Regions from separate parts of the Homo sapiens genome. Here all the other regions are linked to region 5. Evidence: fine-mapped expression QTL. A gene starts in region 5. Each other region holds a variant in brackets. All regions are shown on one strand. Distances are from middle to middle.

Region 1 (6,316 bases), 32 kb before region 5:
TACTAAATGTGAGGCAGTGTGCCAGGTACATTCTGTAAGTGGTAAGATGGTGCTCCTCTCCACGTTGGCTGAGCACGGGGCGCTGGAGATGATGGCGTGAGTGGGTGCCGGCTGGGGGCCGGCCCACAGGCTGTCTCTTTCCTTCTGTTCGTATATGAGGTGGTTTGTCCCCAAAACTATTCTGTTTTCTTTCAGCTGCTGTAAGCCAGTTTCTTGTGTTTTTTTTTTTCAAATAATAACACTTACATTTGAATACTGTAAGCTAGATATGTATTATGCTGTAATATGATAAACTAAGTCTTTATTAAGATATAGGTTATTCACACCTGTAATCCTTATTCACACCTGTAATCCTTATTCACACCTGTAATTCCAGCACTTGGGGAGGCCGAGGTGGGTGGATTGTTTGGGCTCAAGAGTTTGAGACCAGCCTGGGTAAAATGGCAAGACCCTGTCTCTACCAAAAATACAAAAAACAATTTAGCTGGGCATGGTGGTGCACACCTGTAGTCCCAGATACTCAGGAGGCAGAGGTGGAAGGATCGCTTTAGCCCAGGAGGCAGAGGTTGCAGTGAATGAAGATCTCGCCACTGCATTCCAGCCTGGGTGAAGAGTGAGACCCTGTCTCAAAAAAAAGATAGAGGTGATTAGAAAGTCTGCCTGTTTTTCTGCCAAGGTCATTCCTGTCGTTATGACTCTGGCTTCTTGCTCGTGGAGATAGCGCTCTCCCTACAAGTCACTGTGCTGTATCCTTCCCGTTATCACACCTCTTGTAAAATAGTTCACACGCAGCACCATCTCCACCCGTTGGAAGCTATGCATCCCTCCACTGGAGCATCTGTGCTTTACACAGACTTCTGTTTTTTTTTGTTTGTTTGTTTTGTTTTACTTTGTTTTTTTGAGACGGAATTTTGATCTTACTGCCCAGGCTGGAGTGCAATGGCGCGAACTTCGTTCGCTGCAACTCCGCCTCCTGGGTTCAAGCAGTTCTCCTGCCTCAGCCTCCCAAGTAGCTGGGTTACAGGCATGTGCCACCACACCCGGCCAATTTTGTATTTTTAGTAGAAATGGGGTTTCACTGTGTTGGTCAGGCTGGTCTCGAACTCCTGACCTCAGATGATCCACCCACCTTGGCCTCCTGAAGTTCTGGGATTACAGGCATGAGCCACCGCGCCTGGCATTTTTTTTTTTTTTTTAAGAAATGAGGTCAGGCCGGGCGCGGTGGCTCACGCCTGTAATCCCAGCACTTTGGGAGGCCGAGGTGGGTGGATCACGAGGTCAGGAGATCGAGACCATCCTGGCTAACACGGTGAAACCCTGTCTCTACTAAAAATACAAAAAATTAGCCGGGCGTGGTGGCGGGCACCTGTAGTCCCAGCTACTCAGGAGGCTGAGGCAGGAGAATGGCGTGAACCAGGGAGGCAGAGCTTGCAGTGAGCCAAGATCACGCCACTGCACTCCAGCCTGGGTGACAGAGTGAGACTCTGTCTCAAAAAAGAAAAAGAAAACAAAAGAAATGAGGTCTTGGCCAGGCACAGTGGCTCATGCCTTTAATCCCAGCACTTTGGGAGGCTGAGGCAGGTGGATCATGAGGTCAGGAGATCGAGACCATCCTGGCTAACACGGTGAAACCCTGTCTCTACTAAAAATACAAAAAAATTAGCTGGGTATGGTGGCGGGTGCCTGTAGTCCCAGCTACTTGGGAGGCTGAGGCAGGAGAATGGCGTCAACCCAGGAGGCGGAGCTTGCAGTGAGCCACTGCACTCCAGCCTGGGCAACAGAGCAAGAGTCCGTCTCAAAAAAAAAAATGAGGTCTTGCTCTGTTGTGCAGGTTGGGAGAGTGATGTGGTCATGGCTCACTGTAGCCTCGAACTCCCGGGCTCAAGTGATCCACTCACCTCAGCCTCCTGAGTAGCTGGGACCATATGCTCGTACTGTCACGCCTAGTTAATTTTTTTTTCTTTTTTGTATTTTTTGTAGAGATGGTGCCTTGCTGTGTTGCCCAGGCTGGTCTAAAACTCCTGGGATCAAGTGATCCTCCCACCTTGGCCTCCCAAAGTATTGTGATTACAGGTGTGAGCCCCATGCCCAGCCTCAGACCTCTATTTTTTATTTTTATTTTTTTTTCCCCAGAGGGAGTTTCGCTCTTGTTGCCCAGGCTGGAGTGCAGTGGCACGATCTTGGCTCACTGCAACCTCCGCCTCCCGGGTTCAAGCAATTTTTCTGCCTCAGCCTCTTGAGTAGCTGGGACTACATGCACTCGCCACCACGCCTGTCTAATTTTTTTGTATTTTTAGTAGAGATGGGGTTTCACCATGTTGGCCAGGCTGGTCTCGACCTCCTGACCTCAGGTGATCCACTTGCTTCGGCCTCCCAACGTGCTGGGATTACGGGTGTGAGCCACCGCACCCGGCCCAAAGCTCTGTTGTAACAAGTTTATGACACAGTGTGTATCATATGACCACGGGTATGTGGGTTTGCCCTGCGTTAGACTCGGTGCTCGAGGGCTAAGCCTGGTCACAGACATCTCCGCATTTGTTTCTCTGCAAATGGGCTCCTTGCCCCCAGCTCCACCCCACGTAGAGATAGGCACAAATAGAGTTAAGATGTGAGTTGAGTGAGCACACACTCCTCGTAAGCCACTTGTCATTCCTAAACTACGACATCTCAGGCTGCCAGCTGCACTGGGCTCCAGTCAGTGACACCTTACAGGCATGGTTCTCTCCTGAGCTGGATGGATCAGCACCTATCTTGTTTGATTCCTCTCACAGGGTCTGGGGGTGGTGGCATCTCCCCTAAAGGAAGTGGTCCCTCTGTGGCAAGTGATGAAGTCTCCAGCTTTGCCTCAGCTCTCCCAGACAGAAAGACTGCGTCCTTTTCGTCGTTGGAACCCCAGGATCAGGAGGATTTGGAGCCCGTGAAGAAGAAAATGAGAGGAGGTTAGTGTCTGGTTGTGTGTGTCCTCAGTCCTCTCGTGTGCTCCTGGGGCATGCGGGGGCCGCTGCCATGC[T/G]CCGTGCTGTGGGGCATTGCTTCCTGCAGGGGCATGTGGACCCTGCCTCAGGTTGATGCCTGTAACACCTCCGGCATTTTCATTCAGAAAACCTGGGCCTGTTTTTTTGCGGTTTGCATAATCCAGATAGAACTGTGATTTGCTACAGGCTGTTCTCTTGGTCTGGAAATAGTGCATTCTGAATTGCAGAATTAATCTCAAAATCCTCCTTCCTGGCCAGGTGCAGTAGTTCATATCCGTAATCCTAACACTGGGAGGCCAAGGCAGGAGAATCACTTGAGGTCAGGCGTTCGAGACCAGCCTGGGCGACAGAGCAAGACTTTATCTCTAAAAATAAAAATCAAGCCTGACACCGTGGCTCCCGCCTATAATCTCAGCACTTTGGGAGGCCAAGGTGGACGGATCATCTGAGGTCAGGAGTTCAAGACCAGCCTGGCCAACATGGTGAAACTCCGTCTCTACTAAAAATGCAAAAATTAGCTGGGTGTGGTGGTGCATGCCTGTAATCCCAGCTACTTGGAAGGCTGAGGCAGGAGAATTGCTTGAACCCGGCAGGTGGAGGTTGCAGTGAGCCAAGACTGTGCCATTGCACTGCAGCCGGGGCAACAAGAACAAAACTCCATCTCAAAAAAAAGAAAATCAAAAAGAAAGCCCTCTGTCCTGGTAGGACAATAATTTCTAAAAATGTAGCTTAAATCTTCACATTGAAGATGATTTAGGGAGAAGTCTGCACTTTGAAAGCCAAAGTTAAGATTATTAGAAAACATTTGGGAATGTTATGGTAGAAGCATTGCTGTATAGCAGTCCAGAGAGCAGCCAGCCACTGGGGCACTGTGACAGGAAGGTTCTAGGAGGGGTCCCCAGGGAAAGAAATTAGGTTATCTGACACGTGGGGTTGATCGGTGTGGGGAAGGTGTGGAAAGAGTCAGCAACAGTTACACAGGAAAAATAAGCACAGGAATGAGGAAATTTTAATTCTAGCAAACATGAAAAATTGTGTAAGTCACACAACTTAATCTAGTAAACTACTTGGCTCAGCAGTGAATACTTGCATAAGCATAATAATACAAATACAGTATCATGAACTAATGTAATCTGTTAATGTAATGTTGGCAGGGGTGTCTCAGGACAGAGTTTTTCTCTACCTTAATAGATGTCAGGAATGATGTCTAAAATTGATAAATCAAATGTACCATGATAACTTAGAAACACAGAGGTAAATACCAGAAGAAACAGCTCAAAGACATGAAAATAGTTTTCCTCCGAGGAGGGAAATTGGGTGAGGAGCGGCTGAGACGGAGGGTGACTGCCTTTGTTTTCTTCTAAATATATTATGTATACATTTTTTTAAGAGACAGGATCTTGCTTTGTCACCTAGGCCAGAGCGCCGTGGTGCAGTCTTGGCTCACTGCAGCCTCCACCTCCTGGGCTCAGACTGTCCTCCCACCTCAGCCTTCCGAGTAGCTGAGACCACAGGTGCACGCTACCATAGCTGGCTAATTTTTTTTCCCATTTTTTTAGAGATGGGGTTTCATTATATTGCCCAGACTGGTCTTGAACTCCTGGGCTCAAGCGATCTGCCCACCTCAGCCTCCCAAAGTGCTGGGATTACAGTTGTGAGCCATTGCACCTGGCTTCTTCTAAATACTTGGCTTTTTAAATTGTGTACAGTTTCTTTAATTAAAAATAAAAATTAATTGATTACCAACATCTGAGCATTATAGAAAAATAAAAACACCAGAAGAGGGTGGGGCGCGGTAGCTCACACCTGTTACCCTAGTACTTTGGGAGGCCGAGGCGGGTGGATCACGAGGTCAGGAGATTGAGACCATCCTGGCTAACACGGTGAAACCCTGTCTCTACTAAAAATACACAAAATTAGCCGGGCGTGGTGGTGGGCACCTGTAGTCCCAGCTACTCAGGAGGCTGAGGAAGGAGAATGGCATGAACCCGGGAGGCGGAGCTTGCAGTGAGCCGAGATCGCGCCACTGCACTCCAGCCTGGGCGACAGAGCGAGACTCTGTCTCGAAAAAAAAAAGACTGCATGTATTTCCTTCTCGGTTACGACAGTTAGAACACATCCCTTTCTCCTGTGGACGGGGACCTTGACCTGAACCTGCGTGTATTTCCTTCTTGGTTACGACAGAACACATCCCTTTCTCCTGTAGATGGGGACCTTGACCTGAACGGGCAGTTGTTGGTCGCACAACCGCGTAGAAATGCCCAAACCGTCCACGAGGACGTCAGAGCAGCGGCTGGGAAGCCAGACAAGATGGAGGAGACGCTGACATGCATCATCTGCCAGGACCTGCTGCACGACTGCGTGAGGTGCGACCGTGTTCACCCTTGGCTCACGGAACATGGCACTGCAGGTTCTTCGTCCCGTGTGGGGCAGGGCTGGGCATGAGACAAGCCTGCAGGTCCTGTTTGGCCTGGCATCTGCTGAGGTTACTCTGTCACCCAGATAAGTGGGTGGAGTGGGTGGAGTGGGTGGAGCTTTCTCAGCCCACTGCAACCTCTCCCTCCCAGGATTGAGCGGTTCTCTGACCTCAGCCTTCTGAGTTGCTGGGACTACAGGTGCACACCACTATGCCTGGCTGACTTTTTTTTTTTTTTTAATGTTCTAAATATTTTTTATTCCTTTTTTTTTTTTTTTTTTTTTTTTTTTTTAGATGGAGTCTCGCTCTGTCACCAGGCTGGAGTGCAGTGGCACAGTCTTGGCTCACTACAACCTCAGCCTCCCGGGTTCAGACGATTCTCCTACCTCAGCTTCCTGAGCAGCTGGGACTGCAGGCGTGTGCCACCATGCCCGGCTAATTTTTTTGTATTTTTTAGTAGAGACAGGGTTTCACCATGTTGGCCAGGCTAGTCTTGAACTCCTGACTTCAGGTGATCTGCCCACGTTTGCCTCCTAAAGTGCTGGGATTATAGGCGTGAGCCACTACTCCCAGCCACCCTGCTGATTTTTGTGTTTTTTGTAGAGACGGTTTCGCCATGTAGCCCGGGGTGGTTTTTTGTTTTTGTTTTTGTTTTTTGGAGTTAGAGTCTCGCTCTGTCACCCAGGCTGGAGTGTAGTGGTGTGATCTTGGCTCACTGCAACCTCCACCTCCCAGGTTCAAGTGATTCTCCTGCCTCAGCCTCCCAAGTAGCTGGGACTACAGGCATGCGTCACCACATCTGGCTAATTTTTTTGTATTTTTAGTAGAGACGGGAGTTTCACCATATTAGCCAGGCTGGTCTCGAACTCCTGCACTCAGGTAATCTGCCCACCTTGGCCTCCCAAAGTGTTGGGATTACAGACGTGAG
Region 2 (4,000 bases), 160 kb after region 5:
TCGTCTCACTGTTGTGCTAGAATCCTGCCGCCTTTGACTTCCTGCTGCAGCGGGTTGAGAAGACCTTGCGCCACGCCCTTGAGGAAGAGGAGAAAGTGCCTGTGGAGCAAGTCACCAACTTTGAAGAGGTAACCATCAGGGAGGCAGGAAGAGCCAGTCTGTGTTTGGCGCCTTCTTCACAGACCACGTCTTTCAGCAGCACGTTTATTGTGCACCTGCTGCGTGTGGTGCTGTGGACGGATGACACAGGGTCTCTGGTGGGACAGGGCAGTCATGGTTGTGACGTGTGATGCTGTCACAAGGTCGGAGGGCTTCATGAGAGGTGGGGTGTGAGCTGCTCCTGAAATGCAGTAACATGGAAGGTGGGTCCTGGTGGGATGTATCCCGTGTCCTGTTTTAAAGCATTAGGACTTTATTTTATAGGCACTGGGGAGCCATTGGAGGTTTTAAATTTTATTTACTTTTTGTTGTTGAGACTTAAAAATGACAGTAAATTCCTACAAATGACAGGATTAGTGACTGTAAAATCTGTTTACATAATGGTTAGAAAGCACACTTACAAAGTGTGTTATGTGACTGGAGAGGGAGACACCAGTTCTTCTCTGATCCCTGTTCCTCAGGACATGGCACATCTCAGGTCTTTTTTTTTTTTTTTTTTTTTTTTCCCTTTTTGAGATGGAGTCTCGCTGTTGTTGGCCTGGGCTGGAGTGCAATGGCATGAGTTTGGCTCACTGCAACCTCTGCCTCCCGGGTTCAAGCAATTCTCCTGCCTCAGGCTCCCCAGTAGCTGGGATTACAGGCATCCGCCACCACACCTGGCTAGTTTTTGTATTTTTAGTAGAGACAGGGTTTCACCATGTTGTCCAGTCTGATCTTGAACTCCTGACCTTGTGATCCGCCTGCCTTGGCCTCCCAAAGTGCTGGGATTACAGGTGTGAGGCACCGCGCCTGGCCTATCTCAGGTCTTTATGTCAGGCACTGTGCAGCACTACATCATGTTCAGTGAGGTTGCTGGTTTAGAGTTTTTAACAGTTTTCACATTGATGCCAAGAAACTTTTTTTTTTTTTTTTTTTTTTTTTGAGACGGAGTCTTGCTCTGTCACCCACACTGGAGTGCAATGGCATGATCTCGGCTTACTGCAACCTTTGCCTCCTGGGTTCAAGCGATTCTCCTGTCTCAGCCTCCTGAGTAGCTGGGATTACAGGTGCCCACCACCATGCCTGGCCAATTTTTGTATTTTTAGTAGAGATGAGGTTTCACCACGTTGGCCAGGCTGCTTTCGAACTCCTGACTGTAAGTGATCTGCCCACCTCAGCCTCCCAAAGTGCTGGGATTACAGGTGTGAGCCACTGTGCCTGCCCTCAAGAAACATCTTGTAATAGATTCACTAGTCAAAATTTAAACAAGAATATGTGTACACTCTTGGCAAGCTGTGAAGCACTGTTTGGCTATTGTCAGCCACATCCATTATTATACTTCAGGGAACTCTTATGAACCGATCAGGAAGAGAGCCTTGTCTGAATAACAAATAGGAGTTAAAGAATGTCGGCCATGGCCGGGCACGGTGGCTCACGCCTGTAATTCCAGCACTTTGGGAGGCCGAGGTGGATCACGAGGTCAGGAGATTGAGACCATCCTGGCTAACACGGTGAAACCCCGTCTCTACTAAAAAAATATAAAAAAATTAGCCGGGCGTGGTGGCGGGCACCTGTAGTCCCAGCTACTCGGGAGGCTGAGGCAGGAGAATAGCAAGAACCCGGGAGGCGGAGCTTGCAGTGAGCCGAGATCGCTCCACTACACTCCAGCCTGGGCAGCCTGGAATCCCAGCATTTTGGGAGGCTGAGGCGGGTGGATCACCTGAGGTCAGGAGTTTGAGACCAGCCTGGCCAACATGGAGAAACCCCGTCTCTACTAAAAATACAAAAAAAAATTACCCAGGCGTGGTGGCGAGACGTCTCAGAATCTGAGACAGAGTTTCACTCTTGTTGCCCAGGCTGGAGTGCAATGGCATGATCTCGGCTCACCACAACCTCTGCCTCCTGGGTTCAAGAGATTCTCCTGCCTCAGCCTCCTGAGTAGCTGGGATAACAGGCGCTTGCCACCACGCCTGGGTAATTTTTTTTTT[G/TG]TATTTTTAGTAGAGACAGGGTTTCTCCATGTTGGCCAGGCTGGTCTCGAACTCCCGACCTCAGCTGATCTGCCCGCTTGGCCTCCCAAAGTGCTGGGATTACAGGCGTGAGCCACCGCGCCCGACCTAGAAGCAGATATTTAAAGTCTTTAAGAAACAGTGAGATGGGCAGGTAGAGTGAGGCTGGAGGTGTGGTAGATGTGAGGATGCCAGGCTCCCTGGTGAGTGAGGAAGAGAGCTCTGTAGATGTGAGGACGCCAGGCTCCCTGGTGAGTGAGGAAGGGAGCTCTGTAGATGACATTGTCCTGTTAGCGATTCCTAAGTCCTCGCAAGTGCCCTTGAAAGGGAAGCCCAGGATCGCCTTTGTGTCCCTGAAGGGTCACCTGTTGGGCGGAGGGTGGCTGGGGGGATGTCAGCAGGGGCTCACAGCCACGTGGGGCATGTCCAGGTGGTGTCCCCACCATGGAAACTTGGCCATTCACTTGTCCCAGCCCATCCTCCCCTTCTTGACTGGACAGCCTTTCAGAACACGCCGTTACTGGGCAGAGAAGGGTGCAGTGGAGGCTCTTCCCCGGCTGATTCGTTTATCTGTAATTCAAGTAGAAACAATAGGTGTTACTGTTGTGGTATTTCCTGTTCTATGGAATAGATGTTATTCCTTGTAATCACTTTTTTCTTAAAATTTTAGGTGTGTTTTCTATTTTTACTACTTTGGAGGGTTTTAAGGATTTTTCTTTTTCTTTTTTTTTTTCTGAAACAGGATCTGGCTCTGTTGCCCAGGCTGGAGTGCAGTGGTGCAATCTGGGCTCACTACAGCCTTGACCTCACGGGCTCAAGCGATTCTTCCACCCCAGCGTTCCGAGTAGCTGGGACTACAGGTGCCACCGCCACACACGGCTAATTTTTTATTTTTTATAGAGACGGGGGTCCCACTGTGTTGCTCAGGCTGGTCTCGAACTCCTGGGCTCAAGTGATCCTCTGGCCTCGGTCTCCGAAAGTGCTAGGATTACAAGCATGAACCACTGCACCTGGCCTAAGGATTTTTTTTAATACTAAGGAGAGTTTAGTGTTCAAGTAATTTTCTAATGACTCCACCAAATTTAATGTATTTCATAGAAATGATGGCAACCCTTCTTAACTTTTTTCTTCTGGCTAGTTTTTGCTCTATTTATATATTTTTCAGCTTTTTCCTCTCCTGAATGTCTAAAAGGGGTTGGTGAACTGCACACGAGGCAAGCTTGGTCACCAGCCTCTACTGAGTTTCGCTTTCTCTGCAGGTGTGTGATGAGATTAAGAGCAAGCTTGCCTCCCTGAAGGACGTTCCCAGCCGCATCGAGTGTCCACTCATCTACCACCTGGACGTGGGGGCCATGTACCCCAACATCATCCTGACCAACCGCCTGCAGGTGAGACTTTACTTCCCGTGTCAGAGTCGGAGCTCTCTCTGCCCAGCCCTAAGTGCTTTCTCACCCCTCCCAGCCCTCTGCCATGGTGGACGAAGCCACCTGTGCTGCCTGTGACTTCAATAAGCCTGGAGCAAACTGCCAGCGGAAGATGGCCTGGCAGTGGAGGGGCGAGTTCAGTGAGTGTCGGCCGCCTGGGTGGGCACTCGGTGGGAAACGGGTGGGTGAGTGTCGGCCGCCTTTCTCCACTTGGTGGGAAGCCGGTGTGTCTGTGCCTCCTTTTGAACTTGCCCCCATTGCCTCCTTCCCAGTGCCAGCCAGTCGCAGCGAATACCATCGGATCCAGCACCAGCTGGAGTCAGAGAAGTTCCCCCCCTTGTTCCCAGAGGGGCCAGCTCGGGCCTTTCATGAACTGTCCCGCGAGGAACAGGCGAAATACGAGAAGAGAAGGCTGGCGGGTGAGTGCCTGGG
Region 3 (6,316 bases), 79 kb before region 5:
GAAGAGCAATGTTGGGGAGCTGACACTACCCAACTTCAAAATTTCCTATAAAGCGATAGTAATGGAGACACTCTGATACTGGCAGAAGAATGGACAAAGAGGTCAGTGGGGCAGAATAAAGAGCCCAGAAGCAGCGCCACACAAATATAGTCAACTGATGTTTGACAAAGGAGCAAGGGCAATGCAATGGAGAAAGGATAGTCTTTTTAGCAAATGGTGCTGGAAAAACTGGACATCCACAGGCAAAAATGTGAATCTAGACAAAGACCTTATACCTTTCACAGAAACTAACTCAAAATGGATCAAAGACCTGAATGTGAAATGCAAAACTATACAACTCCTGGAAGACAGCACAGAAGAAAATCTAGGTGATCCTGGGTTTAGTGATATTTTCTCAGATACCATACCAAAAGTACAATCTGTGAAACAAAAAACTGATAAGTTGAACTTCATTAAAATTTAAAACTTGTGGCCAGGCGTGGTGGCACATGCCTGTAATCCCAGCTACTTGGGAGGCTGAGGCAGAAGAATCACTTGAACGCGGGAGGTGGAGGTTGCATGGGGCCGAGATCGCGCCATTGCACTCCAGCCTGGGCAACAAGAGCAAGACTCCGTCAGGAAAAAAAAAAAAAAGGGCCAGGCGTGGTGGCTCACGCCTGTAATCCCAGCACTTTGGGAGGCTGAGACGGGTGGATCACAAGGTCAGGAGTTCAAGACCAGCCGGGCCAAGAGACCAGCCTGGCCAATATGGTGAAACCCCGTCTCTACTAAAAATACAAAAATTAGCCGGGCGTGATGGCGGGCACCTATCATCCCAGCTACTTGGGAGGCTGAGGCAAGAGAATTGCTTCAACCCGGGAGGCAGAGGTTTCAGTGAGCCGAGATCGTGCCATTGCACTCCAGCCTGGGCAACAGAGCGGGACTCCGACTCAAAAAAAAAAAAAAAGTAAACTATAAACTTCAGTTAATAATAATATATTAATATTGGTGTATCAGTTGTAACAAATGTACCAGAGTAATATGAAACGTAAATATAGGGGAAACACTATGGTAGAACATAAGGGGAACACTAAGGTAGAAAGGGATGGGGGGAACTCCTTGTTCTTTCCAGTTGATTTTTCTGTAAACCCAACACGCTCTAAACAAAAATAAAATATATTAATTTTTTTTTAGTGCAACTAAACAAGGTCCATGAAAAAGAGAATATTGGGTGGGCGCGGTGGCTCATGCCTGTAATCCCAGCACTTTGGGAGGCTAAGGCAGGAGGCTCGCTTGAGACCAGTCTGGGCAATAGAGTGAGACCTCGTCTCTATAAAAAATTTAAAAATTAGCTGAGTGTGGTGACACACACTTGTAGTCCCAGCTACTCGGGAGGCTGAAGTGGGAGGATTGCCTGAGCCCAGGAGGCAGAGGTTGCAATGAGATTGTGGCACTGCACTCCAGCCTGGGTGACAGAAAGAGACCCTGTCTCCAAAAAAGAAAAAAATATTACAGGTTGGTCTTAGGATATATATTTTTAAATCCTGGTGAAGGATAAGTGAGCTTTTCTCAGGGAAGCAGGTGGGACAGAGGGGAATCACTTTGGGAGTGGCCTCCCACTAGTGACCTCACAGACCCCCTCACTGACCCGGCAGACCCCACATCACTGACACGTAAGACCCCAGATGACGAGGCCTGCACATCTCCTGTGACGGACAGCTGAGACCCCGTACCACTGCCCGGACCCAGCCCTGGCCCAATGGGGCTCGCACCTCCAAAGCCCACGTCCACACGTTCCGAGCCCGCCGTCCCATCGCAAACATCCGGGGGCCGCCACTGCGCCTAACGACCGCCCATCTCTGACGCCTCGGGTCGGCGTTTGATTTTTAACCCAAGAAAAGAGTAAAAGTCAAGCGGAAATCAACGCAGAAGCGGTGCTGCAGCCTCTGAGCTTCCTGACGGCCGTGTCCAGAGCCGGGCTCCTCCTCCGGCGGCAGCCGCCGGGCTCACTTCAGTGCGCTCAGCTTCTCGCGGGGACAAGCGTCTGGGCGGGGACGGCCCGAGGCGGGGGTGTGGCGAGGCTGGAGAACGCTGAAAGCTGGTGGGCTTGGGAAGACAAACGACGCTCTGAAATTTGGCTCCCAGGTAATACGTTCCGGCACTTCGCGGCGGCTCAGTCAGCGCTGCTGGGTTCCACCCCTCCTATGCGTTGCTCAGGGACAGGTTTCTTAGTGACAGGCCCCTCACTATTCCCATTGGCCAGGACGCCCAAGGCCCACGCAGCCGTTGGCTAAAATTGTTGTCTGTTTCAGACACGTTGGCGAATTCCCCGCCTCTACGTTGCCGGGAGACAGCATGTTGCCTAGCAGCGTGCGGCTCCCATTGCCTTTGGGCGCGGCTCTCCGCCCCGACCCGCCCCTCTGGGACCCATCCGGGTCTGCGCCTCAGCTAGACAGGGCGGGCTGCGGCGCGCAGTCTTAGGCGTGCGCTTCGGGGAAGGGGCCCTCGCGTGGGAGGAGCGCGTCTGCGAGGGATGCGCCGGCGCAGGCGAGACCCGGAGCCGCGTGGTCTCTGCGCAGTGCGTCGTGTGGGGCGGCCGACCCCGGCCCGGGTTTCCCTGCTCGTTTTCGTCCGGGCGGGCGTCTTGGTTCCCGTTCCAGGCCAGCCCCATCCTAGGTCGCTGCTTCATCCAGCGCTTGGGGCATTTGTGTCGTTGGCGTTGTTTTCCTCTTAACTACAAACTTTAAATGTGTTCATCTACTCGTGACGGCGAGTTTAGCAGACTTTCATTCCCAGAAGACGTGTCACACGATCTGTATATTTTTCATACAGAAATTGACGGACGTCGTTACTTCTAAATTTCCACAGGGGCTGGTTCATCCCGCGGCTTTACCTAGAGAAAAACGTCTGAGGCCGGGCGCGGCGGCTCCCGCCTGTAATCCCAACACTTTGGGAGGCCGAGGCGGGCGAATCACGAGGTCAGGAGTTCGAGACCAGACTGGCCAACATGGTGAAACCTCGTCTCTACTAAAAATACAAAAAAAAAAAAAAAAAAAAAAAAAAAAAAAAATAGCCGGGCGTGGCGGCGCATGCCTGTAATCCCAGCTACTCAGGAGGCTGAGGCAGGAGAATCGCTTGAACCCGAGATGGTGCCACTGCACTCCAGCATGGGCGATAGAGCGAGACTCCGTCTCAAAAAATAATAATAAAATAAAAACCATGGACAATGGGAGGAGAACATCACACACCGGGGCCTGTCGGGGGTGGGGGGCCAGGGGAGGGATAGCATCAGGAGAAATACGTAATGTAGATAACTGGTTGATGGGTGCAGCAAACCACCATGGCACGTGTATACCTATGTAACAAACCTGCAGGTTCTGCACATGTACCCCAGAACTTAAAGTATAATTTTAAAAAGAGAGAGAGAAGCGTCTGAGCGT[T/C]TCTCAGGGACGGCGGGTGGCAGCCAGGACGGGCTGGGGCGGTGAAGTGCGGGGCGGGAAGCGACGCGTGCGCCTCCTGCGCTGGCTTCTGTGAAAGGAGGGACTGATTGGAGATCACTGCTGAAAAGTGGACTACGCATCAGTGAATAGTTAGTGAAATATGAGCTTCTACATTCAAAACCATTTGTGCTTTAAAGATTTTGTTTCACCATGGTATCGTATTTATCTGAATCCTATGTTGCTTTTGCTTTGTAATCTGAATTGTCTGTCACTCCCCCAGTCTCAGTTTTTTGTTAACTGTTCAATATTCATAGAAATGTCTCTACATGGGACCCTTTAACAGAGAGAGTAATCTGTCATAGCAAGTATTTCCTGAGTAGTTTCACTGATTCTATGTTTTTAGCAGGTCAATGTTTTCCTGGTTAGTTTTATGATTTTATCTCAATTTTTACCAGTTTGTAACCAGAACTGGAGTATTAATGAGAAGATATATAATTGTAAGTAAATATTCTATTTATTAGAAGAATAAATCACCCTGACAGTCAACAAATAATCTTTTTAAAATTTTTCATTGATGTATTGATTTATTTATTAGAGGGAGAGTCTCTGTCGCCTCATCTGGAGTGCAGTGGTGCCATCATAGCTCACTTCAGCCTCGAACTCCTGGGCTCAAGTGGTCCTCCCGCCTTAGCCTCCCAAGTAGCTGAGACTACAGGCACGTGCCACTGCGTCAGGCTGATTTTTGTATTTTTATTGGAGATGAGGTCTGCCTAGGTTGCCCAGGCTGGTCTCAAACGCCTGGGCTCAAGCCATCCTCCCGCCTCAGCCTCGCAGAGTGCTGGGATTAGAGGCACGAGCCACCACACTCGGCAATAATAACAATCTTTTTAATGGATCCACTCAAACAAAATAGAACCTGCTCAACTAAAATTTCCTGTCTATCCTCAAATAATATTAAAAACCATCCTATCTTAATATGAATTACCCTAAAATCTATTATTGGCAAATATAAGTTTTCAGTACATCAGTGAATGCTGAAGTTAGTTATATTGGGGAAACTGGCTTTTGAAATATATTTTTTAATCGATTGTAGATAGCATTGTGTGTTCAGAAGCTGTGATGGAAGTGGCATTCTACACCGGACATCTGCTGATACAATACACATCTCTATAGAATCTACTTATTATAAGGACCACTTCATGTATTATCATTATGAAAATCATGATCTGCGAAAATAGGAAGAAAATTAAAGCTAGAAATGTATGTGATTTAATCTCTCTGTTTTGGCTGGCCTCAATTCTGCAGCTTCCTAACACGTTTGAAGCAAGGGTCCTTGCCTGTGATTGTATTATTAATACATTCTATGTAAGCTTAGTTTAAATGATATTGTTCCAGCCAGGCGTGGTGGCACCTATAGTAACAGCTACTCAGGAGGCTGAGGTGGGAGGATCCCTTGATCCTAGGAATTCGAGGCTTCAGTGAGCTATAATGGTGCCAGTGCACTCCAGCCTGGGTGACAGCAACACCCTGAAAAAAAATTAAAAATAAGATAAAATGATATTGTTCATGTGAAAGAATGCCCATTCTTTTGCAAAGATAGTGCTCTTTTGGTAGCTTTTAGAAGTTTTGGATTTGGAAGTTGAGTTCTTCAAGTTCATTATTATTCAGGGTTGTATTTACAATTCTAGGTTTACAAACAGTTTGTCAACATCTACGAAATTAATTGCGGGGATTTTTGTCGGAGCGGCACCAACTCTACAGTTGGGAAGAATTGACATCTTAGCAATATTGTGACTACAATAATGAAAAAGGAGTATGCTCCGGTTATGTTTTCCTTTTTTTTCTCTCTTTCTCTCTCTTTCTTTTCCGTCCCTCCTTTCCTTCCTTCCTTCCCTCCCTCCCTCCCTTAAGATAGAGTCTCCCTCTGTTCCCCCGGCTGGAGTGCAGTGGCCCCATCATGGCTCACTGCAACCTCCCTCTCCAGGGCTCAAGCCATCCTTCCATCTCAGCCTCCCGAGTAGCCGGGACTACAGCCGCACACCACCAAGCCAGTCTAATTTTTGTATTTTTAGTAACGACAGGGCTTGGCCATATTTCCCAGGCTCCTCTGGACTCCTGACCTCAGGCGAGCCCTCTGTGCTCCGGACCTTCCGGAGTGCTGGGATTACAGGTGTGAGCCACTGCGCCGGCCTACGTTTTCTTTTAATAGTGTTTCATAGTTTTCTGGATACAGATGGTTTCATATTTTGTTAGAGCAAGGATTTCTTGGATTTGTTGTATCCAAGGATTTCTTTTTGTTGTTTTATTGCAAACGGTAGGCCTTTAAAGTTTTCCAGTTTCAGTTGACTTTAATATATTGGCTTTGTACTTTTGCTTCTTGTTACCTCCCCCACTCCTATCAAGCCACAGAAGAGGAGGCTCCACCGCACTTTTGATCTCCAAAATTATAGTTTAGGAGATACGGTTCAGAAAAGAGCGGGGAGGCGCGCTTCTTTCGCTGATGGGGTGCGCTCAGCTCCTGCGCTGCCCCTGGTGGCCGGCAGGGCGCGCCCAACCCTACGATTGTGGCTCGTGGCGCGCATGCGCATTCCGCCCGCGGCGTCGCCACAGGGTGAGGGAGCTTGGCTTCCTGAGAAGCCACCCAGGAGCCCCGGCTTGGGGATGACTTGAGGCCGCGTCTTCGGTGAGGAAAAGCTTCCCAGAGGAACTCTGCCGGGGAATCTCTAGAGTCATTGTCCTTTTTTAAAAATGTTTTTATAGGCCGGGCGCGGTGGCTCTCGCCTGTAATCCCAGCACTTTGGGAGGCCGAGGCGGGTAGATCATGAGGTCAGGATATCCAGACCAGCCTGGCCAACAAGGTGAAATCCAGTCTCTACTAAAAATACAAAAATTAGCCG
Region 4 (6,316 bases), 49 kb after region 5:
AGCCCCTCCCTGTGGAGCTCCGTCACAGTAGGGCCGCCTGTTCCACTCTCTGGCTGTGTCCTGCCCTGAAGTGGTTTTGCTCATGCCCACCCTGCTGAGTGGCCTAGCCAGGGCTCAGTGCCTGGACAGACTTCTCCAGAAGCCCATGGCCCCAGGAGAAGGCTGGGCTCTTGGCCATGGGGAGGAATGAGAGGGGCCTGGGGAAGCAACTGACCATGACCACGACAGCCTTCAGATCATGAAGCAAGCACGGTCCTGTGGTGTCCATCGCAGGGTTGTGTGGTGTCCATTGTTCTTTGTTTTTGTTGTCTTGAGACAGAGTCTCACTCTGTCATTCAGGCTGGAGTGCACAATCTTGGCTCACCACAGCCTCCACTTCCCAGGTTCAAGTGATTTTCCCGCCTCATTCTCCTGAGTAGCTGGAACTACAGGTGATCGCCACCACACCTGGATAATTTCTGTAGTTTTGGTAGAGACAGGGTTTCATCATGTTGGCTAGGCTGGTCTCAAACCCCTGACCTCCCAAAGTGCTGGGATTACAGGTGTGAGTCACTGCGTCCAGCCCATTGCTGTGTTTTAGTTTTCGATGTTTCTTTTCTTTTCTTTTTCTTTTTTTTTTTTTTTTTGAGACAGAGTCTCGCTGTGTTGCCCAGGCTGGAGTGCAGGGGCACAATCTCAGCTCACTGCAACCTCCACCTCCTGGGTTCAAGCGATCCTTCTGCCTCAGCCTCCTGAGTAGCTGGGACTAAAGGCATGTGCCACGATAGTGGCTAATTTTTGTATTTTCAGTAGGGACGGGGTTTCACCATGTTGGCCAGGCTGGTCTCAAACTCCTGACCTCAGGTGATCCCCCTGCCTCGGCCTCCCAATGTGCTGTGATTACAGGCGTGAGCCTCTGCGCCTGGCCTAAGTTTTCGCTGTTTCTTGTTGAAAACTCACCTGTTTCTGGGGTATGTGAACTCCACTCACCAGTGCAGGTAATTTTACAGTGACATTGGTATGTTTCAGCTTCAAGAATCCAGAGGCTTTAGGAAGAAGATAAAACGCCTTGAGGAGTCAAACAAGAAGTTGGCTCTTGAATTAGAGCACGAGAAAGGGAAGCTTACGGGCCTCGGTCAGTCCAACGCAGCTCTGCGGGAACACAACAGCATCCTAGAAACAGCTTTGGCCAAGAGGGAGGCAGACCTAGTCCAGTTGAACCTTCAGGTATTCAAACTCGTCAAACTCACGCCAGCAACGGTGTGAGAGTTGGTGGGGCTGTGCGCACTCCGAGAATCTCATCCAGATTCAGTCACCTGTGCTGACTCCTAGCCCACCCGGCCTGCAGCCGAGAGAACAGGCTCAGGAGTCCGGGTGACCCACGGCCCTGGGTCCCCAGCTGTTGGTGCAGGGCTGGGCTCTCCGAGGGGAGGAACAGGCTCAGGGGTCTGGGTGACCCACAGCCCTGAGTCCCCAGCTGTTGGTGCAGGGCTGGGCTCTCTGAGGTGAGGCTGGAGCCCCTGCGTGTGCTCAGTTCACCTGTTTAGTTGAGGGGCAGACCTGCTTAGTCGGGGGGCAGACCTGCTTAGTTGGGGGGCAGACCTGCTTAGTTGAGGGGTAGACCTTCCATGTGGGTGTGGCTGAGTTCCAGTCCCAGACGGTGACATTGTTTGTAGGGGGCACTTAACAAGAGGTTCACACAATTCAGAACTGGGACTTGAACCCTGACCTGGTTCTCACTCAGCTACTTAGTCTCCACAGCCTCTCTGAATTGAGGACTAGGCTGGGCATTTCAGGGAAATCCTGGGGGCCAAATCGAGCTGCTGGTGTTGACTATCCCATCTTAGTTCCATATTTTGCCCTAGTTCCCACCACTTCTGTTCTTTTTGTACCCGGCTGCAGCCCCTGATTTGTATGTAGTTTTTGAGTTCCCAGCCACCATGTTCCATTTTTTTGTTGTTGTTGTTGTTAGTAATACGGAGTCTCACTCTGTCTCTCAGGCTGGAGTGCAGTGGCACGATCGCGGCTCCCTGCCTCCCGGGTTCAAGCGATTCTCCTGCCTCAGCCTCTGGTATAGCTGGGACTACAGGCGTGCACCACCGCGCCCAGCTAATTTTTCATATTTTTAGTAGAGACAAGGTTTCACTGTGTTAGCCAGGATGGTCTCGATTTTCTGACTGTCATCCGCCTGCCTCGGCCTCCCAAAGTGCTGGGATTACAGGTGTGAGCCACCGCGCCCGGCCCATTCTTTTTTTTTTGAGACAGGGTCTGGCTCTTGCCCGGAGTGGAGGGCAGTGCGGTGGAGGGCACTGCGGTGGTACCATCATAGCTCACTGCATCCTCAACCTCCTGGGCTCCAGCGATCCTCCTGCCCTGGCCTCTGGAGCCGTGGGGCCCACAGGCGTGCCACGTTCTTGAGTGCGGCCCTGTGATCATGCTCCCGCAACCTAGGATTCTGTTTTTGTCACAGATTCTTCAGCAGTGAAGTTCCCTCTACCTCCCTGGCGTGTGCCTGTGATGTGGCGTGTGTCACGTTGCCTGCTGTAGCAGCCTTGTGTGTTTGTAATTCGACGTCCTTCCTTATCTGTCCTCCTGCAATCTGATCTAGGTGCAGGCAGTTTTGCAGCGCAAAGAAGAGGAGGATCGCCAGATGAAGCATCTTGTCCAGGCCCTGCAGGCCTCACTAGAGAAGGAGAAGGAGAAGGTGAACAGCCTCAAGGAGCAGGTGCGTGCCACCTTCCGTCTCACAGGGCGTTCCAGAGGACGCTCCAGTGCCTAGAAATCTATGCAGGGTCCTTCACACACCAGCCTCCTTCCAGCAGTTACACAGAGCAAAGGTGTGTTGCAGTTGTTGGTGACGGAGGCCGCAGAGCACCTGCTCTGGTCCGTAGAAGGTGGCGTTAGATTAAATGGCAGTGCAGCTGTGAGGGCCTGGGGCCAATGAGCTCCGCGTGCATGTGTATTTATATTGTGCTGGGAGTGGTGTCCTGTATGTCGTGTTGCATTGCAAAAGCAAACTTGAGAATAGCATATGATCCCATTTGTGTTCGGCAGATAAGAGGGGTGGTTCTGTGGACCCTTCTCTGTGTAGAGAGCTGTCTTTTCGTGGCTGGCCCCTGCCCTGCTTCAGGTGTTCACTGACACGTTGGTCACGTCGCCAGCAGAGGCCCATCCTGACCCCCAGGTGCCCTGTCTGGGCCCTGCTCCTCTGTTAGAACGCTGCTGCTTGCTGGCTACCTCCGCCATACCTGGCACAGAGCAGCTACTCCTAGTACGCTTGCCGTGTGTGTGCACATGGGGGGTGTGCGTGCACGTGTGCCTGGGGTGTGGTGTGTGTGCACGCGGGGGGCTGTGCATGCAAGTGTTGTGATGTCTGTACACACGTGTGCCTGGGGTGTGTGCACGCGGGGGGCTGTGCGTGCAAGTGTGATGTCTGCACACACGTGTGCCTGGGGTGTGTGTGTGTATGTGCGCGGGGGGGTGTCCGTGCAAGGGCTGTGGTGTGTGTGCGCACGTGTGTGCCTGGGGTGTGTGTGCACGCGGGCTGTGCGTGGAAGGGTTGTGATGTCTGTATACGCGTGTGTGCCTGGGTTGTGTGCATGCGGGGGGCTGTGCGTGCAAGAGTTGTGATGTCTGTACACACGTGTGTGCCTGAGGTGTGTGTATGTGCGCGGGGGGGTGTCCGTGCAAGGGCTGTGGTGTGTGTGCACACACGTGTGTGCCTGGGGTGTGTGTATGTGCACGGGGGGGGTGTCCATGCAAGGGCTGTGGTGTGTGTGCGCACGTGTGTGCCTGGGCTGTGGTGTGTGTGCATGCATTTGATGCTGATGTATATGTAGAAAATTTCTAGGAGGAACACAAGAAATAACTGGTTGTCTCTAGAGAAAGGCAGGAAAGAACACATCACTTTTCCTTTAAATCCCGTTTGAATTGAACTTGTAAAAAAGTAATTGCTTCACAATTCAAACTTTTCGGCCTAACAGTGAAGCTGCTTTCGTTCCTATGACCTGGCTTTGCCACAACCTTTAAGAACTTTTCTATGATAATGTAATTGAGATGAAAAGAAAAAGGTTCTTGATTTTTTTTAAGGGGTGAAACAACAAAGTTTCTTTATAAATAGAATTAATTTTAAGATGTGGCAGGTGGCTGGGCGCGGTGGCTCATGCCTGTAATCCCAGCACTTTGGGAGGCTGAGGCAGGCAGATCACCTGAGGTCGGGAGTTCAAGACCAGGCTGACCAACATGGAGAAACCCTGTCTCTACTATGAATACAAAATTAGCCTGGCGTGGTGGCACATGCCT[G/A]TAGTCCCAGCTACTCGGGAGGCTGAGGCAGGAGAATCGCTTGAACCAGGAGGCGGAGGTTGTGGTGAGCCAAGATCACACCATTGCACTCCAGCCTGGGCAACAAGTGGGAAACTCCGTCTCAAAAAAAAAATGTGGCTGGAATATTTTAACAGGAGCAGTTAACAGCTTTCTCTTGGCCCCACAGGCCTCATCCGCCCGGCCGTTTAACCCTGGCCTGGGGCCTGCTGCTGGGCCGTGGTTCAGGCTGGCTCACACGGTGCCCCAGCTCTCCAGCTTTCGCTCCGTGCTTAGGGTTCACTGAATTTTTTTCGGTTTTTTTTTTTTCAGACGGAGTCTCACTTTGTCACCAGGCTGGAGTGCAGTGGCTTAATCTTGGTTCACTGTAACCTCTGCCTCCCGGGTTCAAGTGATTCTCCTGCCTCAGCCTCCCCAGTAGCTGGAACTACAGGCGTGCACCACCATGCCTGGCTAATTTTTTGTATTTTAGTAGAGATGGGGTTTCACCATATTAGCCAGGATGGTCTCAATCTCCTGACCTGATGACCTGCCCGCCTTGGCCTTCCAATTAATTTTATTTTTATTTTTTAAATGTATTTATTTTATTTTATTATTTTTATTTATTTATTTGTTTATTTTTTTGAGATTTTGAGATGGAGTCTCGCTCTGTCGCCCAGGCCGGAGTGCAGTGGCGCGATCTCGGCTCACTGCAAGCTCCACCTCCCGGGTTCACGCCATTCTCCTGCCTCAGCCTCCTGAGTAGCTGGGACTACAGGTGCCCGCCACCACGCCTGGCTAATTTTTTGTATTTTTAGTAGAGACGGGGTTTCCCCGTGTTAGCCAGGATAGTCTCGATCTGACCTCGTGATCCACCCGCCTCGGCCTCCCACAGTGCTGGGATTACAGGCGTGAGCCGCCACGCCTGGCCTATTTATTTCATTTTTGGGACCGGGTCTCACTCTGTCACCCCAGCTGGAGTGCAGTGGCGCGATCACAGCTCCCCTGCAGCCTGGAACTCCTGAGCTCAAGTGATCCTTCCACCTCAGCCTCCTGAGTACCTGGGACCACCATGCCCTGCTAATTTTTTTATTTTTTGTGGAGACAGGGTCTTGCTATGTTGTCCAGGCTGTGAATACACTGGAAGAAGACTATAAAAACTATTTAGACCGAGAAATCTCGAATAAATGTGTTCATTCAACAGATAGCAGCAGCCACATAAGTGTGCACTTGCTGCGTGCCGAGCTCCGGGTCAGGTGGTTTCATCTTTACAAGGAACTTGACAGGCCTGTGGAGAAGCACACGCCGGCAGCCAGGACATGCACGGGGCCGGGAGTGCATTCACCCCCTGCGCCCGGCACGTCATAAAGCTGTGGGTGTCACGCAGGGCATGGACAACGTGGCTTCCTTCCTCCTAGGTGGCTGCTGCCAAGGTGGAAGCCGGGCATAACCGCCGCCACTTCAAGGCGGCCTCCTTGGAGCTGAGTGAGGTGAAGAAGGAGCTGCAGGCCAAGGAACACCTGGTGCAGAAGCTGCAGGCCGAGGCCGACGACCTTCAGTGAGTGCCTGGGCCCCGCCAGCCCTCAAACATGGCTGTCCTGGCAATGGGCGGGGTCTAATTCACACCTTCAGCACAGCGAGGGTCATCTATATTTTGCAAATTGCCGAGTACTTGAGTGAATCATAGGAGTAGAAGGCACCCAGCCTCCGTCTCCAGAATCCTGAGCCTCACTCACTGCCCCGTGTCCTCCCCCCAAGAGAGAAAGCGCCCCAGCAGGAGTACTTAGCTTCAGGTCAGAGGCGGGAAGGGGCGGCCCGGCGCGGGGCTGATGCTGTGGCTCTGTGGGTCCCATGCACTGTGGTCTCGGGGCCGGCACTCTCTGGGATCTGTGAGGGGTGCCGGCAAAGTGAGTCTCTGGGATCTGTGAGGGGTGCCAGTGAAGTGTGAGTCTCAGGTGCTTCGTGAGGACTGCCCGAGTGCACACTGTGGGCACCAAGCATGGCTGCAGCACGCAGTGCACAGCAGAGGGCCTGCCAG
Region 5 (6,316 bases):
GAACCCCACCACCACTCTATAATGCTGTCATTTTGTGACATAAGTGGACACATCGTACAGTTCATGCAGTGTAGACCTTCGGAGATGTTTTCCTCCCTGGATGTAATGCCTTGGAGCTTCGTCCAAGTTATTGCACACATCAGTGGTCAGCTCCTTTTTATTGCTGAGTAGTGTCCATGGCATGGGTGGTCCACGGTTTGTTTCACCACGTCAGAGTGGCATGGGTGGTCCATGGTTTGTTTCACCACGTCAGAGTGGCGTGGGTGGTCCACAGTTTGTTTTGCCACGTCAGAGTGGCGTGGGTGGTCCACGGTTTGTTTCACCATGTCAGAGTGGCGTGGGGGGTCCATGGTTTGTTTCACCATGTCAGAGGACATTTTGGTTGTTTCCAGTTTGGGGTCAGTAATGTACAGGCTTTTGTGTAGACATAAGTTTATTTCTCTGAGTTCAATGTCTAGGAATGCAGTTGCTGGGTCATAAAATTGTTTACTTTTTGAAGAAACTGCCCAACTATATTCCAGAGTGGGTGCACTATTGCTGTTCCCATCAGCAATGTATAAGAGATTAGTTACTCCAGAATACATTATTCCCAGCATTTCATATTGCCACTGCTGTATATTATTTCAGCTGTTCTAATAGGTGTATACTAATATCCCAAGGCAGTCTTTTTTTTTTTTTTTTTTTGAGACAGAGTCTGACTGTGTCACCCAGGCTGGAGTGCAATGGTGTGATCCCAGCTCACTGCAGCCTCCACCTCCCAGGTTCAAGCGATTCTCCTGCCTCAGCCTCCCAAGTAGTTGGTATTACAGGTACCTGCCACCATGCCCAGCTAATTTTTGTATTTTTAGTAGAAGCAGGATTTCACCATGTTAGTCAGGCTGGTCTCGAACTCCTGACCTCAGGTGATCCACCTGCTTCGGCCTCTCAAAGTGCTGGAATTACAGGCTTGAGCCACCGCGCCTGACCTCAAGATAGTCTTAATGTGCATTTCTGTAATGGCTAGTGATGCTGAACCTGGTCACAAGCTTATTTGCCACTCATATATCCTTTTAGTGAAATGTGTTTTCATGTTTTTTGCTTGTCTTCTGTTTGTGTGTGTGTATGGTTTTTTTTTTTTTGAGATGGAGTCTCATTTTGTCACCCAGGTTGGAGTGCAGTGACACAATCTCAGCTCACTGCAACCTCCGCCTCCCAGATTCAAGCAATTCTTGTGCCTCAGCCACCCAAATAGCTGGCATTACAGGTGTGCGTCACCACGCCTGGCTAATTTTTGTATTTTTAGTAGAGACAGGGTTTCTCCATGTTGGCCAGGCTGGTCTCAAACTCCTGGCCTCAAGTGATTTGCCCCCTTAGCCTCCCAAAGTGCTGAGATTACAGGCATGAGCCATTGTGCCCAGAATAATTGTATTTTTTTTTACTGTCAAGTTTTGAGAGTTCTTTATATATTCTAGCTACTAGTCCTTCAACAAACGTGGTTTGAAAATATTTTCTCACAGTCTGTAACTCATCTTTTCATCCTCTTAATGTGGTCTTTCTCACAAGGTTGGTTTGTTTGTTTTGAGATGGAGTCTCGCTCTGTCGCCCAGGCTGGAGTGCAGTGGCACGATCTCAGCTCACTGCAACCTCTGCCTCCCAGGTTCAAGTGATCCCCCTGCCTCAGCCTCCCGAGTAGTTGGGACTACAGGCACACACCACCACGCCCAGCTAATTTTTTTGTATTTTTCATAGAGACAGGGTTCACCATGTTGGCCAGGATAGTCTTGATCTCTTGACCTTGTGATCCACCTGCCTCGGCCTCTCAAGGTGCTGGAATTACAGGCGTGAGACACTGTGCCCGGCTTTTTTTTTTTTTTTTGAGACGGAGTCTTGCTCTGTTGCCCAGGCTGGTGGCACGATCTCCGCTCACTGCAACCTCTCCGCCTCCTGGATTCAAGCGATTCTCCTCCAGCCTCCTGAGTAGCTGGGATTACAGGCACATGCCACCATGCCCGGCTAATTATTATATTTTTAGTAGAGATGGGTTTCACCATTTGGCCTGGCTGGTCTCAAACTCCTGACCTCAGGTAATCCGCCCACCTTGGCCTCCCAAAGTGTTGGGATTACAGGCGTGAGCCACCGCATCCGGTGAAAAGTTTCTAATTTTTTCATGAAGTTTACTCTATCAACTTCTTTTGTGAATTGTGTTTTTTTGGTCAGATCTAAGAACTCTTCCCCAAGCTCTAGATGTGAGAAATTCTGTTTTCTTCTAAAAGTTGTATATTTTACGCCTCAGTCTGATCATTTTGTGTTAGAATTTGCATTTGCAGATAACATGATGGCCCATGTAAAAAATACAAGGATTTTACAACAACAACCGCAAAACACCAAATGAACCCTCAAACTAATGAGTTCAGCGAGGTCTCAGGATAAGAAAATCAACATAGAATTCATCACATTTGTGTAGACCAACAGTGAACACGTGGAAAACGTCAAAAACGCAGTGTTACAGTTGTTTGATGTGAAATACTATAAACTTAAAAGGTGCAGAATCTGTATGCTGAAATTACAAAATGCTGGTGGAAGAAATCAAAAGACCGAAATAAATGGAGGGGCCACCAGGGACGCAGATGAAGGACCGAGTCAGCGATGCCCGTGCTCCCCAAACGATCTGCAGCAGTTCCCATCAAAATCCCAGAAAACTTCGTAGACTGAAGCGTATTCCAAAATCCGCAGAGATGAGCGCAACATCACAGAGGACCCCGAGGCGCCCTCCAGGCCATTTCCTTCCTGACAGCTGGAAGAGCGGCCTGGCGGATGAGGGAAGGTGGAAAGCCGTTCCCCAGCGGCCAGCGGCCCGCGCCGTCCAGCTTTGCCCTTTTTAAAGGGGAAGCAAATAGGGTCCAAAGCAGCGTCGCCTTTGATCTGGCACCTGAAGCGCGAAGGGCGCCGGCCGGGTGGAGGTGCGGGGTTGGGGCGGGGACCCGACTAGGGCGGGCGGGGAAGTCACGCCCACACCGAGCTCGGCCGCGCCCATGCCGAGCCCCGGCCACGCCACTTCCGCCGGAAGCTCGGTTCAGCTTCCTGAAAGAGTTGGTCCTGCAGTTCCGGAAGTTGCGTTTCTACTAGGGAAAGGTCCGCAAACTCTTAAGGTCACTTTCTGAAGGCGGCCTCATCACAGTCGGAGGTGAGCTCGATCCGGACCCTGTGGGCAGAGGGTCCCCGGCCCTAGGGTGGCCACTTGAAGAAGAGGAGGACGTTCTCTGTTCCGGAACGAAAGTAGCGCGTGCAGGCTGTTTCCGGGGACCCGAGGCCGATGCACCGCTCGCCCCGCCCCTCTCACGGCCACGTCTCCGCCGGAGCATCCGGGCCGGGCGGCCTCCGGGGCTGCCAGAGCAGCAGGGTGAGGGGCTCGGAGGCCGCGGCGCCTCGGGGCTCGGGCTCCCGCTCCCGCTCCCGCTCCCGCAGTGCATGGGCGGGGGAGGCTCGAGGGGCGGCGGCGGGGCCTGGGCGCGTCCCTGCAGCGTGGCGGGACGGCCCCGTTCCAGTCACCCCCGCCTCGCTGCGGTGGCCTCGGGCCTGGGCGCCCGCCTTCAGCTGCGGCGGAGCTGGCTCTGTAAATGCCGGTGCCCGCGAGCCCTCCTGAATGCTTGTCTGCGCCCGACGAGCGCGGCCTGTCCCGAAGCTGTCCACTGCCACCACTCGGGCAGTGCTTGCTTTAGCCTGGCCCTTTGCAGCTGAAAGGCGTGACATGGTGTCGGGTGGTTCGTGGGAAGTCGGGGTTTCAGGAGTCCGTGTACTTCCTTGTTTGTCTTTGTCGCTGGCCGACTTGTCTTCATTCCAGGTGGCCAGAGCGAGTGGGGCCGGGCGTTGTCACGGGTATGAACCCGACGAATGTCAGTCGTGTGGCGGGTCCTGGGTATTGTGGGTCTGGGTCACTGCCCCCGCGGAGCCCACCTAGGACAGGGACACCCAGGGTCGCCAGCGAGAGGGTACCGGGCGGTGGTTGGGTGGGGTCCGCTACTCTAAGTGGGAGCCTGGGGGGCGGGCGACTTCCGTGCTAAGGCCTCTATGACGAGAAGCAAGCCAGGCAAAATTGTGAGAAAAGCGCGCCTCAGGCAGAAAGTTTGAAGACCCTGAGGGCGGAGGATGTGGCCACAGTGTAATGGCAAAGGGGGAAAGCGATGGCGGTAAGGATGTTGGTGTAGGCAGGTGCTGGATTCTTAAGAGGTTGGAGTTTATTGTCACTGGGCCAGTGTAAGCCATTTACAGATGACTCATGGATTTTTTTTTTTTTTTTAAGAGACTGGGTGTGTTGCTGTATTGCCCAGGCTGGTGTGGAACTCCTGGCCTCAAGCGATCCTCCCACCCCAGCCTCCCAAAGTGCTGGTGTTACAGGTGTGAGCAGCCACACCCGTCGTCGTGGATTATTTTGAACTGTCTTTTAAACGACATCAACATAGCGCTTTATAACCCTTTAATATCTTTTCAGGCAGTATACCTTAAATGGCAAGAAGGAAATAAATCATCTGACATCACTCAGATTGAAGAGGAGCTTTTTTTCCCCCGATTGCCTTAAGAAGTAGCATACTTTCCCAAGTGAGAATGCCTTCAGTTGGCTTTTAGCGATTTTGACAAGCAACAACTAAAGGGAAAATCGTGATAATTACTGTCATTTTATTGAGGACACGGGACAGACTCTGTGCCTTGTTATATTTAATCCTGGCAAAATTTTGCGTTCATTTTCTCATTGTTTTACTGGTGAGGAAACAGGCTAAATGTGATTAAGAAATCTTTAGCCCAGGCTCTCACAGGTAAGTGGTGGAGGGTCGGGAGCTGAGGCCGGAGTCCTGACTTCCAAGCCTGCCCTTCACGTCTCTGCAGTGACATGAGGCTTGCTTGCTTTTGGTTTTCACTTTGTGTATAGATCTGTGTTTACTTTTGGATACTAGTGTGGCCTCCACCAGGTACTCTTTTCCTGAGGAAATCGTGTTTGGTTTTTGGCTGTGCTCTGTTGTTTCTAATACCCGATAGGAACAGGTGAAACGAGGTGGTGTAGATGGAGCCGTGAATGTTTGTATACAGAATTCAGGTGTGGGGGAAGCAGAAAGTCCTGTAGGTGCCTGAGGTGGTGGTTTCTCAGTATGAAGTCCCTTGATGTTACCCAGCTGTGAACCTAGGGTTGTGTGTACCTTTCGCAGTTCTAAGTGACAGCTTTGTCCTGTCTCTTCTCTCTAGAGACGCAGGAGTGCGAGTGATCATAAGTGAGACTGATTAGACTGGCCTCTTTATTTAAAATAGAGCCATGTTTGTAGTACCAGCTTTCTGTGATGCACTGGCAGTTGCTCCTCCTCCTCGCTGCCCGGAGATCGCTTTTTGTCAGTAGTCTGAGGTAATGAGGCCCTGACGACTGAGTCATTCCAAATTTTAACTAAAAATCAAGCAAGACTGGGAATCGACCGAGACTGCCAGCTTATTGCCCTACAGGGAGAAGTATCACTGTCACCAAACTCCAGGCAGTTAGTGAATTCTCTCTCTGGTCCGGCTTCAGGAGGAGCTGCCTGTAAAGAGGGGCCGTCTTTGTGACTTACAGTCACCGTCATGGGGTCTCTGTTCTGGAGAGGTGGGCTGCTTGGACACCAGCAGGGGAATTAAGTGAGCAGAATCTGTGATTGCACTGGACTCAGCTCGGTGCGGTTGGCTGTCACCATGTTGGCGTGCCCTCTCGGTGGAACCTGAGCGTCTTTGGCTGTGTTCCTTCTTGGTCAGTGTAAGGCCCAGGCGTCGTCACTGTGGGCCTCTGCAGCAGTTCTCCTCTGCAGCAGTTCTCCTCTGCATGTTCCACCTGTAATGGCTGAGTCCAGTCCTGCTGGTCATCCCATCCTTCCTTCTGTTCAGGTGGTGGTGCCTGTCTGGGCCGTGGCCGTGATGCTGCTCTTCCAGTTTCTTTTTTTTTTTTTTTTTTGGAGAATGAGAAAATAACTTTATTTCATTGTGGGGAGCGGGCTGATGTCCAGCCTCAGAACTTCTGGAACTGCTTCTTGGTGCTGGCAGCCTTGGTGACCTGGAGCACGTTGAGGTGCACTGTCTTGCTCAGAGGCCGGCAAGGCCGGCACTCGCCCACTGTGACGATGTCACCGATCTGGACGTCCCTGAAGCAGGGGAACAGGTGTACAGACATGTTCTTGTGGTGCTTCTCGAAGTGGTTGTACTTGCGGATGTAGTGCAGGTAGTCTCGGCGGATGACAGTGGTCCTCTGCGTCTTCATCTTGGTCACCACGCCAGAGAGGATCCGCCCTCGAATGGAGACATCACCAGTGAAGGGGCATTTCTTGTCAAT

Evidence for each region. PIP is the estimated chance that this variant, and not a neighbour inherited with it, causes the effect. A credible set is the group of variants that fine-mapping cannot tell apart.
Region 1: its variant is the best candidate, but not a certain one, in a credible set for the expression of GOLGA3 in whole blood (INTERVAL, PIP 0.54).
Region 2: its variant is the best candidate, but not a certain one, in a credible set for the expression of GOLGA3 in whole blood (INTERVAL, PIP 0.84).
Region 3: its variant is the best candidate, but not a certain one, in a credible set for the expression of GOLGA3 in whole blood (INTERVAL, PIP 0.62).
Region 4: its variant is the best candidate, but not a certain one, in a credible set for the expression of GOLGA3 in atrial appendage (GTEx, PIP 0.77).

What each region holds. Positions count from the first base shown.
Region 1 is chr12:132,858,090-132,864,405 of GRCh38, reverse strand. It overlaps CHFR (checkpoint with forkhead and ring finger domains), which reads left to right. Exons shown (of 18, transcript NM_001161346.2): 7 at 2,772-2,939; 8 at 5,179-5,338. Among named protein-coding and RNA genes, the nearest start is that of CHFR, 26 kb to the left of the region's middle. The variant T/G (reference allele first, on the strand shown) is at 3,011.
Region 2 is chr12:132,668,343-132,672,342 of GRCh38, reverse strand. POLE (DNA polymerase epsilon, catalytic subunit) reads left to right here. Exons shown (of 49, transcript NM_006231.4): 16 at 21-128; 17 at 3,404-3,532; 18 at 3,606-3,708; 19 at 3,841-3,987. Among named protein-coding and RNA genes, the nearest start is that of POLE, 17 kb to the left of the region's middle. The variant G/TG (reference allele first, on the strand shown) is at 2,127.
Region 3 is chr12:132,904,584-132,910,899 of GRCh38, reverse strand. LOC124903065 (a long non-coding RNA gene) reads right to left here and starts at 2,232. Exons shown (of 2, transcript XR_007063553.1): 1 at 1,752-2,232. RefSeq lists a silencer at 2,459-2,508. The variant T/C (reference allele first, on the strand shown) is at 3,420.
Region 4 is chr12:132,777,186-132,783,501 of GRCh38, reverse strand. GOLGA3 (golgin A3) reads left to right here. Exons shown (of 24, transcript NM_001389683.1): 17 at 1,009-1,206; 18 at 2,588-2,704; 19 at 5,697-5,836. Among named protein-coding and RNA genes, the nearest start is that of ANKLE2, 19 kb to the right of the region's middle. The variant G/A (reference allele first, on the strand shown) is at 4,282.
Region 5 is chr12:132,825,866-132,832,181 of GRCh38, reverse strand. GOLGA3 (golgin A3) reads left to right here and starts at 3,313. Exons shown (of 24, transcript NM_001389683.1): 1 at 3,313-3,379. It also overlaps the pseudogene RPS11P5. RefSeq lists silencers at 2,796-3,005, 3,376-3,435, 3,936-4,035 and an enhancer at 3,086-3,225.